4 linked regions of the Homo sapiens genome follow. The protein of the gene in region 4 purifies or fractionates together with the protein of the main gene of each other region. This does not show direct contact. Each region holds a gene or a part of one and is shown on either strand. Other genes may lie near its edges.

Evidence for each region. Proteins that work in one complex are often made in the same cells at the same time.
Region 1: the proteins of EYA3 (region 4) and WRNIP1 purify together in Homo sapiens (affinity purification with mass spectrometry, with the first as the bait; one large-scale study listed by BioGRID). This does not show direct contact.
Region 2: the proteins of EYA3 (region 4) and DIS3L purify together in Homo sapiens (affinity purification with mass spectrometry, with the first as the bait; one large-scale study listed by BioGRID). This does not show direct contact.
Region 3: the proteins of EYA3 (region 4) and STX17 purify together in Homo sapiens (affinity purification with mass spectrometry, with the first as the bait; one large-scale study listed by BioGRID). This does not show direct contact.

What each region holds. Positions count from the first base shown.
Region 1 is NC_000006.12:2,768,393-2,771,892, forward strand, and holds part of WRNIP1 (ATPase WRNIP1), read left to right. Parts: intron 1-298; coding exon 299-490; intron 491-1,665; coding exon of another isoform or gene 1,666-1,721; exon of another isoform or gene 1,722-1,727; coding exon 1,728-1,969; exon of another isoform or gene 1,970-1,984; intron 1,985-3,500. UniProt on the Homo sapiens protein: Functions as a modulator of initiation or reinitiation events during DNA polymerase delta-mediated DNA synthesis. In the presence of ATP, stimulation of DNA polymerase delta-mediated DNA synthesis is decreased.
Region 2 is NC_000015.10:66,317,568-66,321,067, reverse strand, and holds part of DIS3L (DIS3-like exonuclease 1), read right to left. Parts: intron 2,620-3,500; coding exon 2,450-2,619; intron 498-2,449; coding exon 336-497; intron 1-335. UniProt on the Homo sapiens protein: Catalytic component of the RNA exosome complex which has 3'->5' exoribonuclease activity and participates in a multitude of cellular RNA processing and degradation events.
Region 3 is NC_000009.12:99,965,654-99,969,153, reverse strand, and holds part of STX17 (syntaxin-17), read right to left. Parts: intron 1,502-3,500; coding exon 1,415-1,501; intron 721-1,414; coding exon 481-720; 3' UTR 1-480. UniProt on the Homo sapiens protein: SNAREs, soluble N-ethylmaleimide-sensitive factor-attachment protein receptors, are essential proteins for fusion of cellular membranes.
Region 4 is NC_000001.11:27,991,111-27,994,610, forward strand, and holds part of EYA3 (protein phosphatase EYA3), read right to left. Parts: intron 2,451-3,500; coding exon 2,290-2,450; intron 1-2,289. UniProt on the Homo sapiens protein: Tyrosine phosphatase that specifically dephosphorylates 'Tyr-142' of histone H2AX (H2AXY142ph). 'Tyr-142' phosphorylation of histone H2AX plays a central role in DNA repair and acts as a mark that distinguishes between apoptotic and repair responses to genotoxic stress.

The DNA of each region.
Region 1 (3,500 bases), on a different chromosome or scaffold from region 4:
GGGATTCCAAAGATCTTAAAGAGTCACCCAAAAAGGAATCAAAGGTGGTTAGGGACAGAGGAGAAAAGGTCAGGATTAGCCTAAGGTTTAGCTACTTTCCTGTTTTATTTATAATATTTTTGTTGTTGTTGTTTTTAAATGTCCTGTGGTATTTTTGATTGTTTCTGTGCTGCTCAGCATTCTTCCGAGGTCAAGTTGCTTTTGGTAAATAGTGATGCTGCGTGTGGTGGTTCCCATGGGTGCTGGTCTCTCTGTGTCTTACCAGCTTTTCAAACTCCATGTATGTCATCTTTTCTAGACCACTCTGGCTCACATCATAGCCAGCAACAGCAAGAAACATAGCATAAGGTTTGTGACATTATCTGCAACAAATGCCAAGACAAATGATGTGCGAGATGTCATAAAACAAGCTCAAAATGAAAAGAGCTTTTTCAAAAGGAAAACCATCCTTTTTATTGATGAGATTCATCGGTTCAATAAATCTCAGCAGGTATATTAACTTCCTTCTACCTTTTGGTCGTTGTGAACATCAAACAATATAAAGTGTGTGAGATCACTATACAAACGCTAGAGACTTACGAGCTTTGTTTACAAAGAAGCGTAGGCTTGTGAACCCATCTCCTTCAAGCCTATTTCTCCATACATTTCTTAGTGTTTTTTGATAACAAGAAAATGCTTTCTCTATCTGATAAATGAAATGGTTGGCATATCCCTGAGCTATACGTATCAGAAAAGCACCTTTGAATCAAATTTCCAGTTTTAGGAATTTTTAATCTAAATACTAGGAGTCATTGTGAACAGTAAAATAATGATTTTAAGGTCATTATTTTAATGGGTTTTTAAAAATTACTTTAACAGTATTTTTATTTTGAAAATTAAACAATCGGTATTTTCTGTAACTCCAGGCTCTGTCTTCAAGGTGAATGTTGGAAGAGCTAATGATTACTGTTTATTTAAATGGGTTTCTGAAATAAAAGGACACAAGCTATTTTTATAAACAAAGCCACTTAGGGATTTAAAAAAAAATAAACATTAAAATTTTATTGGGCTGAGATCTGAGAGCTATACTCTAAATAAAAAAAAATTAAATTTTTAGGCATAACTTTAAAAAATTTTTTTTTGTAACTTTTTAATCATACATAGAATATTTCACAAAACTCTACTGAGCCTTTTTTGAACCTTTTTGAATAAAAAGACCCTTTTAAAGTTCTGACGAGGCGTTAGCATTCTAGGTTTCATATTGGACCACTGACTCATCTTAGTATTTTTTCCCCATAAAACAGCATAATAGGAATAATAATAATATGATTGAGTGCTTGCTGTGGAAGAAGATTCTGGAAGTGTTAATGTTTTTGTGTGTTCTTGTCTATAAATAAATAGCTGTTACATATAAGCTATGTGCCAGTTCAGCCTTTGGTAGAAGATGGTTTTCTGAGTAAAGAAATCATTTATGTTGAAACTAAGCTAGAATTCTACTTAAAGCTATTAGTCTACCAGCAAGAGATCAGGCTTGGACGGGCATTCCAGAAGATGTGTTTCAGACTTAAAAGCAAGAGTTGTACTCCCCCAAATATTGCATCTATATTCAGTGAATATAAGGCTGCTGCTATTCCTGAACTCGAAAGATAAAAATGAGGAAAAGGAAGGAAGGGATAGCCAACTTACATAGGATTCTGCAGGTGGCTGTTGACTGGAATCACTTTTTTCTGTTTTCCTCCCATGATTAGGACACTTTCCTTCCTCACGTGGAATGTGGGACGATCACTCTGATTGGGGCAACCACTGAAAACCCTTCCTTCCAGGTCAACGCTGCTCTTCTGAGCCGCTGTCGAGTGATTGTTCTTGAGAAGCTTCCAGTAGAGGCAATGGTGACTATTTTAATGCGAGCGATCAACTCCCTGGGAATCCACGTCCTAGACTCTAGCCGTCCCACTGACCCTCTGAGCCACAGCAGCAACAGCAGCTCAGAGTAAGTTGACAGTGTGCAGCGTCCTGGGGGCACACACCTCCCAGAGAGTCTCCTGGCAGGGGGCCAGAAAGGGCCGGGCGTCAGTGAGGAGAGGGTGGGGACAGAGAAGAAATGTTGATCCGCCCGTAATGAAAATAAAAGAGGAGGGAAATGTTCGATTATACCTAACAAAGTTATCCCTGCACACTTGAAGATGCATTTTCCAGCCTCTAATATGTGTTTCTATAATTCTTCAAGCTTTAACTTTGCTTTGTTGTTTTGGTTCTTGGGTGTTTGCTTTTGTGCTTAGGCTTCTATGGGAAGCCTTATTGATGATTTGAAAGGCTTTATGTCCCTCATTGAATAGAACAAATAGATAGATAAATACTTTCTAGACTTACCATACAACTCTTTTGAGCATTGTACTCATGTTTCAATTTCTTTTTAACCTGCAGTTTAGCATTTTGTTAAAAAAAAAAAATCAAGTAAAAATTAACTTGTAACCTTAAAATTATGTAATCCTTTTTGTGTAGTTGAAACTCAGTTTCATGAAAGTAAAGGAATGTTAACTGAATATGACATTATAGGCTGTCCCTATCCTTTTAGTGACCTATTTCTGCATCATGAGTACCACATGAGCTCGTTAATGCACCAAGTGTATATCATAGATAATTTGATTTCTTGGGTCAGGGGTTTTCCTTTTTTTTAATATTAGAACATATTCTTCAGATGGTATTTGTTCATACGTTGGCTGAAATACTGCCATGGAACATAATCTGGTGTGATGAGAGGCTATTGCCCACCTCCTCCTGCTGTGGACTCTGCAGCTGCTCGTGCCTGCCCTGAGGCCAAGTTCTGGAGCCACTTTTCTGTGAGGATTAAAGTACAAGGCATAGTTTAGGCTCAGGGTTTAGGTTTCACCAGGCTCTCCCTATGTGTCTGGCCCCATTTGCTCCTGTCTGAGATGGAGGGAGAATTCTGCTGTGTCTAATGAAAGCATTGAAACATTTGGCCCGTGGACCACTGGGTAGGACAGAGTGGCCTTGTTTTGGAATACCGTTGTGATGGGGATAGCCATTACATCTGTGGCCACAAGCAGTGTGTGGAACCTGTGGTATCAGCCACATGGACTCATACTCAGAAGTGCTTTATGTGGTGGGCATTTGTCAGAGCCTAAGGGGGCTGCCAGCTCCTCATATGTAGTACAGGTTGAGTATCCCAAATCTGAAATCCAAAATGCTCCCAAATCTAAAGCTTTTTGAGCACCTTCATGATGCTGTGAAAGGAAATGCTTATTGGAGCACTTCAGATTTCTGGATTTTGGGTGCTCATCTGGTAAGTATATAATGCAAATATTCTAAAATCAAAAAAATAGGAAATTCAGACCACTTCTGGTCCCAGGCACTTCAGATGTGGGATACTCATGTGTAGGTTTCCCGTAACAGAATTCTCATTACAGACGCATAGAACCACATGGTAAAGACAAATTGAAAGAAAAGGGGGGAAATCCTAACATGTTTCATGTTTCTGTGTGTTCTTTGCTCTGTGTACT
Region 2 (3,500 bases), on a different chromosome or scaffold from region 4:
AGAGTGTGGAGCTCAGTTGGGTCTGTAACTAGGTGTCCTTGTAGTTGCTGGGGATGGATGTATACTGACTATGAGACACTGACATATCATTTTTAAGCCCAGTTGGAAAATATAAAAATTTGAGAGCTATGAGGCTATAGAAAACTAATTCTACACTTGAAGCTGACTTCAGTTTGGTCCAAATATAGAATAAAGAGGATTGAGATTTTTCCATTATCTGTGCCTTCACACAGTGGGTTGTTCCACAGCACAAAGACTTTTCTTTCTTAATGATGAAACAACAACAAAAGCAAAAAGAAAATGTCACTAGATCAAAGCCTTCTGGAAAATCTGACCTGAGCTTCTGAGAAAGGAATAACTGAAATACTGTTTTCCACCAGGATGGTTGCAATTTCCCCTTCCAGATCTCCGATTCTTCCTAAAACACGCACAAAATGTCCATTTGGATACACAGATGTTGACTCCCAGGAATCGATGCGCACGACCACCCTGAAGTCCTGCACAAAAGGAAAAAATAAAACACAGCTGAGCACCAGGAGTTAAGTGGGTCAATTAGAGGCATCAAACAAACAAGAGGCAAACAATACTGGGTTCCAAGGAGAGTGGCCAGGTGCAAATAGTGGTGTATGGTAGGGTTTTTTTTTTGTTTTTCATTCTTCCTATTACTAAATTGCCAGATGGTATGAAATGCTTGACCCAATGCTTTGAAGGGAGGCATTACCTCTCTACATCAATGAAGAGGGCTGGAAATTTTAGTCTGCTGAAGAGAGCCGTAATATATTCTAGTTAACTGTAATATATTCTAGTTAACGCTTGCAACACTAGGGGAAAACTCAATTATGCATGCTCCAAATTAAGTTTTAAAACAACAATCTTAATGTTTTGTGTGTGGGAGGTAGTTCCTAATTTCTTTGAAGTCTATTTTATTTTATTTTATTTTTTTCGAGATGGAGTCTTGCTCTATCAACCAGGCTGGAATGCAGTGGTGCTATCTTGGCTCACTGCAGCCTATGCCTCCCGGGTTCAAGTGATCCTCCTGCCTCAGCCTCTCACATAGCTAGGATTACAAGCGTGTACCACCATGCCCACCTAATTTTTTTTTTTTTTTTTTTTTTAGTAGAAATGGGGTTTCACCATGTTGGCCAGGCTGGTCTTGAACTCCTAGCCTCAAGTGATCCACCTGCCTCGGCCTCCCAAAGTGTTGGGATTACAGGCATGAGCCACTGCGCCTGGTCTCTTTGAAGACCTCTTAAGATGGTCTTTGGTGGAGAAGAAGGTGTCGTGTAAACTGAATCCCCACTACCCCAAAATTCCAGCAAACCATGGGAATGGAAAATGTATTAGGTGCAACTGGCCTGGAGAGCCTGCATAAGGCTTCAAGATGTAAAAGCACAATGGCTAGGTTACTGGCTGGGGACATCCTGCTTTAGTGTCTCATTTACAAACTGTAAAATATCAGGGGGAATTAAATTGGGCAATGCCCATACTTTTTGACACAAGTAAAGGTTAATTTCTAACCTTCTTGTTTATGTCTTCTCTCCAGTGCTATATTCCTTTATGGATAATCAATTCTGTGAAGTACCACTACATCATCCCTACAGGGCAGAGTGATCGTATTTCTATATTGCTTGCTGGAGGAAAGCTTGTTAGTGTTGGCAAAGTGTATCTATAGAAAGTTTCTATGTTGGACAGCTGGATAATGTATGTTCTCTCTGGTTGTCCTACACAGCTCTTTCTAGGACAATTTCTCTCTGGCCTGAATTTATTAACCACAGACTACTTAATGGATGGTTTTCATATATTTAGAATTTTTAAAAAACAGAATCTTGGGGCTGGGCACAGTGGCTCATGCCTGTGATTCCAGCACTTTGGGGAGCCAAGGCAGGAGGACTGCTTGAGGTCAGGAGTTCAAGACCAGCGTGTGCAACAAAGTGAGACCCCATCTCTACAAAAAAAGAATTAAAAAACATAAAAACACGGCTGGGCATGGTAGCTCACACCTGTAATTCCAACACTTTGGGAGGTGGAGGTGGTGGATCATGAGGTCAGGAGTTTGAGACCAGCCTGGCCAACACAGTGAAACCCCATCTCTACTAAAAATACAAAAATTAGCCGGGCGTGGTGGCGGGAGCCTGTAATCCCAGCTACTCGGGAGGCTGAGGCAGGGGAACTGCTTGAACCCGGGAGGTGGAGGTTGCAATGAGCTGAGATCACGCCACTACACTCCAGCCTGGGTGACAGAGTGAGACTCTGTCTTGGAAAAACAAAAGAACAACAACAAAAAAACCCCAAAAAACACATCCCAGTATCTTGGAATGCCAGATGCCATCAATAATTTATTTCTTTATATGCAAAGGAATTAACAATGCTTTCTGGTACTGCTAAAAAGCTGGTAAAGACAGAAGGAGAAAGCGTAGAGATCCCATAGTAGAGGTAGAATGCCAACTACCTGGAGGGTTTCTGCTTGCTGAGTGCTAATTCGAATTTTGGGAATTCTGTAATCCCAAGGTGTAACCAGGATTTTCTGAGCATTTTTGCCCTGAGATTGGACCTCTTCTTTGGACGGAAATGTCACCACATAATCCCGCCAGTTCTTCTGAAGTATGCCCACCACTCGACCTTTGGCAAAACAAAACAAAACAAGGCATTAACTGGTTAGGTGCCATCTATCTGGACTCTGACCACCTCAAGCAGTAAGGAAAAGAACAAGAAATACAGTGTCCTATTTTTTTTCAAGCACATCCACCCAACTCAAGAATGTTTTTGAAAGGAAGCTTTTATTAACAACAATAACGGCCAGGCATGGTGGCTCATGCCTGTAATCCCAGCACTTTGGGAGGCTGGGGCAGGAGGATCACTTGAGGCCAGGAGTTCAAGACCAGCCTGGCTAACATGGTGAAACCCCACCTCTACTAAAAATACAAAAATTAGCTGGGCATGGTGGCGTGCGCCTGTGATCACAGCTGTTTAGGAGGCTAAGGCAGGAGAATCGCCTGAACCTGGGAGGCGGAACTTGCAGTGAGCCGAGATGCACCACTACACTCCAGCCTGGGCAACAGAGTGAGATGCCGTCTCAATAACAAACACATAAACAAAAACCAAAACACACACATAACAACAACAAGAAAAGGTATGTTTGAAGATTTGCCTTCTTGGTATTTTATTTTAAAGATGGATAATTTAAAAACACTTTTTGTTTTTGTTCGTTTCTTTTTTTTTTTTTTTTAAGAAACAGGATCTCACTATGCTGCCCAGGCTAGAGTGCACTGGCTATTCACAGATACTATCATAATATGTTACAGTCTCAAACTCCTGGGCTCAATCCATCCTCCTGGGTAGCTGGGTCTATAGGCACGTGCCATCATACCCAGCAAAGATGGGTAACTTTTAAAATAACATTGTCAGTATGCTCTCTCTTCCTGAGATAACATTTAGAATCCACTTGTCCCATTTTCTCTCTTTTGCCATTATCTTATCAATCTCATTTTGGTATATTGGGA
Region 3 (3,500 bases), on a different chromosome or scaffold from region 4:
TAGTCGACCTGTGCTCCTCACTAGGCCCTGATTTCGCTATCTGATAACAAAGGCTTCTGAACTCTTATTCTTTTCCTCACTAACAAACCTCAATAATCTACACTTAGCATTAAGGTCTCCAATTCAGGGTTATGGAAGAAACTAGTCTTCCATAACCCAACGTTTCTACACATCTCAAGTCCTTATCAGAGTTATAGGTTCAGTTTTCACATTTCCAGGGAGAAAATCTGCTCCTTGGCAGTCTTCAAACTTTACCTGACATACATTATATACCCTCAGCCCAGGGCCTCAATCTCTTAACATCTCCATGAACACCCCAGCAAACAACAAAATATATCCATTTATCACACTTCAATCCCACTTGAACATCAGTAGCCACTATCTTGATATACTTGTGTTCCAAAAGGTGACGGAGTGTCCAACAGCAGCAAAGGTCCTCAGGATAGACATGTTGGCACCAATAATACTGAAATTTGGTTTTTAACTGCATTTCTTGTCAGTTTGGCTGGGAAGATCTGGACAGCTGGAAGTGAGCTTCTCCATCATTTTCTGTTTCTTTCTTTGTATCAATTTTCCACCTGTGAAGCCCAACACCCCACCACCAAGTGCAGCTGCAATTCCTGCCACTTTGAAGCCTGCAAGGAGGCCAATAGGACCCCCTACCATTCCCCCGATGAGTGCACCTGCCACAGGCAGAGCTGCCAGCTTGTATTTTGCAGCCTGTAAAAAAAAAAAAAATTCAATTTAGAAACTGAGTTGAGAATATCTGCCTGTGGTGATGTGCGTTTTCCTCTCATTACTCCTGGCAATGCCTCTTTAACTCTTGGTACATAATTAACCTTAGAGACTGTACTTGTAGGGGGGAAAAGAAAGTATTCCACAGGTACTGCAATTGCTCCAGATCTCAGAACTTAGAGAGCTGAGCTACAAAGAGTGGACTGCTACAAATTGATTTTACTTGCAAAACAATCAATTCACTAACTATCTAGCTGGCTTATTTAAACTGTTTCGGCAGCCACAGATTTCCCCCAAAGCTTTTATGTTGCACAGAAATTATTCAGTGCTGTGTGCCTGGGGTTAAAAGCAACATCCTATGGAAAATAGATGGTCCCACTCCATGTGTGCTGTCACATACTTACACTTTTACCCTCTGCAAATATTCCCTGGTAACACCAAATGCCTTACAGCAGAGCTACAGTTTATTCTCTCTTTGAAGAAATTCCTCTCCTGATAGAATGAATCTTAGAGTAGAATATTACAACATTGATTTCTTACACTACCTATGTGTCATTTCTTCCTTATTTCCTTAATTGCTGGTTCCCTCAACATTGAAGAGAGCAGATCAATTGGGTTAATACTAGAGATTCCTGGGAGCCAGAGTACCATTGATTTGTCAGCAGGAGCAGAATCTTACCTTCCCTAAGTTTTTGGTTCCCTCTTCAACATTCACAGCAGCACTGTTGACATGGTCTGCAATGCTGTCAATCTTCTCCTGCTGAGACTAGATGCAAAGGAATTATGAGTGAGCGGTCCTGCTGGGGAGCAGCAGGGAGCCAACACACACTATTTTAATTCCTGTAATCAGGGCCCTGGGTACTGCAGCCTTGCCATCTTAATAGTGGTTCATTAATAGCATCTGATAAGCCATGTCGAAAGGACAAATTAACTTTCATAAAAAAAAGGGGGGGGTCTTAATTATTAGGTAATAAAAGGGTGGCAACTTTACAGCAAAAAGCATCTCACGCTAAAATTCACTCAAACATACAAACATATTATTCTCCAAATGAATCTACTTTCCAGAAAAAAAAAATCCAAATAAGCATTTACATGTCATGTTGGGTTTGATGGAAAAAAAAAACCCAACAAAATCAAACCCCAAAATACCTCCCTAACTTACCTTCTTTGAGGATTCAGTTTAAATCAGGCACATTTACCTTAGGAGTAAAATGCCCTTGGTCCAATAAATACAAATTGTTATGTTTCAGGAACAAGACTACAATACGGTTTGATCTATTATGAGATCTTTCCATTTGTAATATGCAGTAGGGAACAGTGAATGAAATCACTGTTCTGTGCTTTACACCTGTGTATCTTAATACATTTTAAAATCATGACAGTTTAAAATGTTTCAGATCAAATATATTAATAAAGCATTCTACATAAAATGGCAACACCTGTGCTGGCACAACAGCAACTGTGACTCATGGAATCTCTGGGTAGAAGGAATGTTGAGGTCATCAGGTCAATCTCCTCTCTGATGTGCGAAGCCCTACTGTAACATTCCTGACAAGTGGTTACTGAACCTCTGCTCAGATACCTCCAGTGACACGAACTCATTACTTGCTGTAGGAACACATTCCCATTTTTAATTCAACTTTATTTAGATAGAATTTACATATAACAAGTACTGCTTTTAATGGTATAGTATGATGAAATTTAGCAAATGTATAAACCAACTATCACAAATGTATAAACAACAAATGTATAAGCCAACATATAATCAACCATCACAGTTTACAGACTATTTTGGTTTTGTTTTTTTAATGTGCAGAAAAAAGAGAATCTCTCTTTGATCCTAGATAGATGCCACCTGCAATGAGGGTGAAATAATTCAACTTTAATCCTGAAGTGTTTGATTGCCCTTATATAATTGGCCTATTCATTTATATTGAGGCAGACACATACAACACTTTTCTAATTCCAACCATTATTTCATTTGAAAACATGAAGCCCAAACCACACAGCTACTTTTTCCCCATGTTTGTTTCCTCTTAGCATTACTGATATTACTTCCCTTCTCATACACAAAATATGTCTATCTTCGCCATTGTGGTATCCCTTCATTCCAATATTCTCCACCACTATCTTGACATCTCTAAAACAATGCCTAAGAAAGTCCCTTATCAGTTTTCCTTTGAATGTCTCTGTGAGAGACAACTTTAACAATGGTTCTCAGTCTTCCACCTGGAGGCTTCTTAAAACACAGATTGCTGGGCCTAATCCCCGGAGTTTCTGATCCAGTAGGCCTGGGATGAAGCCTGAGCTAGTAAGCTCCCAGGTGATGCTGATGCTGCCAGTCCACAATTCTCACACTTTAAGAACCACTATTATATGTGCTCAGATCAAGGGCACCACCTTTAGTCAGATAATCTGTGTTCAAATCTCAGCAAACGCCACTATGTGCTCTTAGACAAATTACTCAAGCTCTCTAGGTGTTGGTATTCTCATTTATCAAGTAAGAATAGTGATACTTATACCTTCATAGAGTTGAAGTGGGGATAAAATGTGTTTGCAAAGTGTGAGGGGGGAAAAATAGAAAAATTTATCCTAATTTCCCCAAGGAAGTGTTAACTCTCATCTCTCTATCAAAAAATATATTTAACTTTTTCTTTCGGTGCTTGAAAATTCTAGGACACTAAAACTTCAGGTATCTTTTAGCATTCATTCAATCATTCAATTTTTATTTTCCTCAATAGCAAAACTTATTTAAGTCAGCTTTC
Region 4 (3,500 bases):
GCTTAGAACATGACATCAAGAACCAAAGTGCGAAAAATTAGTGTTACAGCTAGAAGAGTCCTTAGCATTTCTAATCTCTCTGTAAAGAAACGAAACCCAATGAAAAAAAGGGCCCTAAGATTACACAGTAAGTTTGCAGCTTTTGGTCTTAAGAAGTCTTTCCACTACTCCACAGAACTTCCATGGTGACTACTTGTCCACTTGCTTCAGAACATGTTGACATGAAATTCCAGGTTGAATGACTAATTCTCCATACTGTACTTCTGAAACAACTCCAACTGATAAGACACTAAAACACTACCCAAGACTAGATATCTAAGCACAAAAGAGAGCTCATATGATGGGAGCCTGCTCTCAGACACTTCAGTTAAAATATTCAAGCAGTAAATCTGGATCTGAATTTTCTACAGTGAAGGTTAAAAAAAAATCCTGTATTCTATTAGTAATACTCCATAAAAGCAGATGGCATTTTTGTGAGGAGGAGAACTGGAGTATAATTTGTTTTCAGATTGATGGTTCCACAATGTAAGCCTAGAATTAGATGACTCTTAACATTTTGGATAAAACAAAACGACAACAAAACCAGTACCTATATATGATATACTCAACTAATACATGATGTGGCGCTTTCATCAATTCATATTGTACAAAACATACAGCTGGCCATTAATTTTAATCTATTCTCCAAAGTAGGCTCAGAGGATTCTCACACAGGGTTACATCGCTTTGTTCAGGAAACCAGGTCCAGGCATTGGGCAGGGAAAAGATAAAGAGACTCAGGCTGTATATGAAAACTAACAAAAGAAAGGCTAATGTTTGTGAGAAAGAAAATGCAAAAAGATGTGGAGTTACCAAAATAAAAAATACTGGCTTTGAATCATGAGAAGAAATAAGCAACAAAAAGGGGAATCTGAAAAAAGTAAATTAGATTCCTGAAGTCTGGAAGCCCATGATTTTTATCTGGTATTAGAGAGCTGTAACTGAAATGAACCAAATTGATCTGTAAAGTCTTGTTCCTACTTTCTGCGCCATATTGTAAGGCAGCATAGTATAGTACAAGGGCTCTTGACCTTGAGTAAAATACCTCTAGGCCAGCAGTCCTCAACCTTTTCAGCACCAGGGACCAGTTTCGTAGAGGACAATTTTTCCATGGACCTGGGTGGGGGGCGAGAGGTTTCGAGATGAAATTGTTCCACCTCAGATCATCAGGCATTAGTTAGATTTTCATAAGGAACATGCAACTAGATCCCTTGCATGTGCAGTTCACAATAGGGTTTGTACTCCTATGAGAATCTAATGCCGCCACTGATCTGACAGGAAGTGGAGCTCAGGCAGTAATACTCACTTGCCGGCCTGCTCACTTCCTGCTATGTGGCTGTGCTGCCTGGTTGCTAACAGGCCGCTGACTGGTATCAGTCTGAGGCCCGGGAATTGGGGACCCCTGCTCTAGGCAGGCTATGTAATCCCTGAATCTTTGAGCAACATTTTGTATGTATTTGTATCTTTGATGGTGATGGTTTACAGTTTTAAATATTTTCTCAAAAGAGTACCTCACTATAAAAGGAGCTGCATGAAAGTGCACTGGACCAAAAAGTTAGGGAATGTGAATTTCAAACATGGTATGGTTACAAATTTGCAATGTGACCATGAATAAGCTGCCCCCACTACCCCTATGATGGACATCACTTTTCTCAACTGTAAAATGAGGAATTCAGATTAGACTTCTGTCTCTTTTAATTCAAACAATCTATGATTAATTAATTCTAAATAATAGAATTTTAGGCTTAGTGGCATCTGGCATTTGAAATATTTCTGGTCAGAAAGAATTTCCAAGATTCTTTAAATCACAACACATTGATACTACCAACCTACAATCCTGGACCTAGATTTCTGTCCACGAAAAGTTACTAGCTAGTTCTACTTAACTTGTCCTGATAGTTATATAAACCAGCCAAAAAAAAAAATGTGGCACCCTATTAACTAGCGTTGACAGCAGTTGTGATACATGTCATCAAACATAATCTACAGAACATGTTTCCTTTAAAAAGGCATTTGTCCAAAGACAACAAGAGAACTTTCCAAAATTATGCTTAGAGAAGCCCGTTAGAAATATAGAGCTTCCTCCCAAAAGGTTTCAACCAAACCTCTATTTTTTTAAATACAGAGTTTAACATATAACTGTGGCATAATTTATAAGCAGTTGTCATGGGGAATCTAAGGAATCCCTGGAAAGAAAAGGAGGAAACCAGGAAGAAACAGAGAATCAGACTGGTTATATGCCACACTTACCACCCACGTTGCTTTTATGCTTATCATAGATTTCTCTCACTTTCCGGTAGCGGAAAGCTAGTTTCCTCATCCAGTCCACACCTCCCTGAACACCCACAGATGAACCATGGCTGCCACTACCTCCTGAGCCACTGAAACCATCTGTTGAGAAACTGTAGTTGCTGCAAGGAGAGAAGATAATAAAAATTAAAATTTATACAGCATAAAGTTTTTGTTTGAGTGCTATTTGGTTGGGTTCTTGGTATCTGATAAATAAGGCCAATGGCTTTAAGGATCTTCTTCCTTAATCTCTGTATGTCAGAGTCTATCTTTCATTAGTTCTCTATCTCACACTTATTACTTCTATCAAAGAAAGGACTGAAATGAGAGAGGGAATGAAAGGTAGAAACAATTCAAGCACCAGCATTCCTTAGAGGTTGACTTGGGATAAGGCATCTTTTTCACTAATGACAGAAAATAACCACACAGTGAAAAAAGCAGAATATAAAATTTTGTGAGTACACTTACACACACAGTGATTGCAACTATGTAAAAAGGAGAAACATGAAAAAATAATGAAAGGAAATAGGCTAAAATGCTAACAATGGTAAGATAATGGCAGATATTTCCTTAAGTGATCTGCTGGCTGGTTTATGTTCATAGGTCACTGTGGTAGCTTCAAAATATATCTACAAATTCTTTGATATTCCTCTCTTCTAATTCTGCTCCCCTTGGGTATGGACTATACTTAAAATATAAATAGAAAGTGATAAAACTGATAGTGTTAGGCTTCAGAGACTAGGCTTCTTCTGCTCTCTCTTGGAGCACTTGCTCTGGAAGAAGCCAGCTGTCACGTGAGAACATTCAAGCAGCCCCATGGAGAGGTATGTGTAATGAGGAACTAAAGCCTTCTGTCATCAGCCACATGTCAGAGATTGGAAGCACATTCTCCAGCTCCAGTTAAGCTTTCAGATGATTAGAGCTCTAGCCAACATCTTGATTTCAACCCCAGAAACTCTAATTGAGAACTACCTCTGGGGCTGAATGCAGTGGCTCATGCCTATAATCCCAGCACTTTGGGAGGCCGAGGCGGGTGGATCTCCTGAGGTCCCGCCTCGGCCAACATGGTGAAACCCTGTCTTTACAAAAAATACAAAAATTAGCTGGGTGTGGTGGCGCATGCCTGTAGTCCCAGCTACTCGGGAGACTGAGGAAGGAGAATCGCTTGAGAT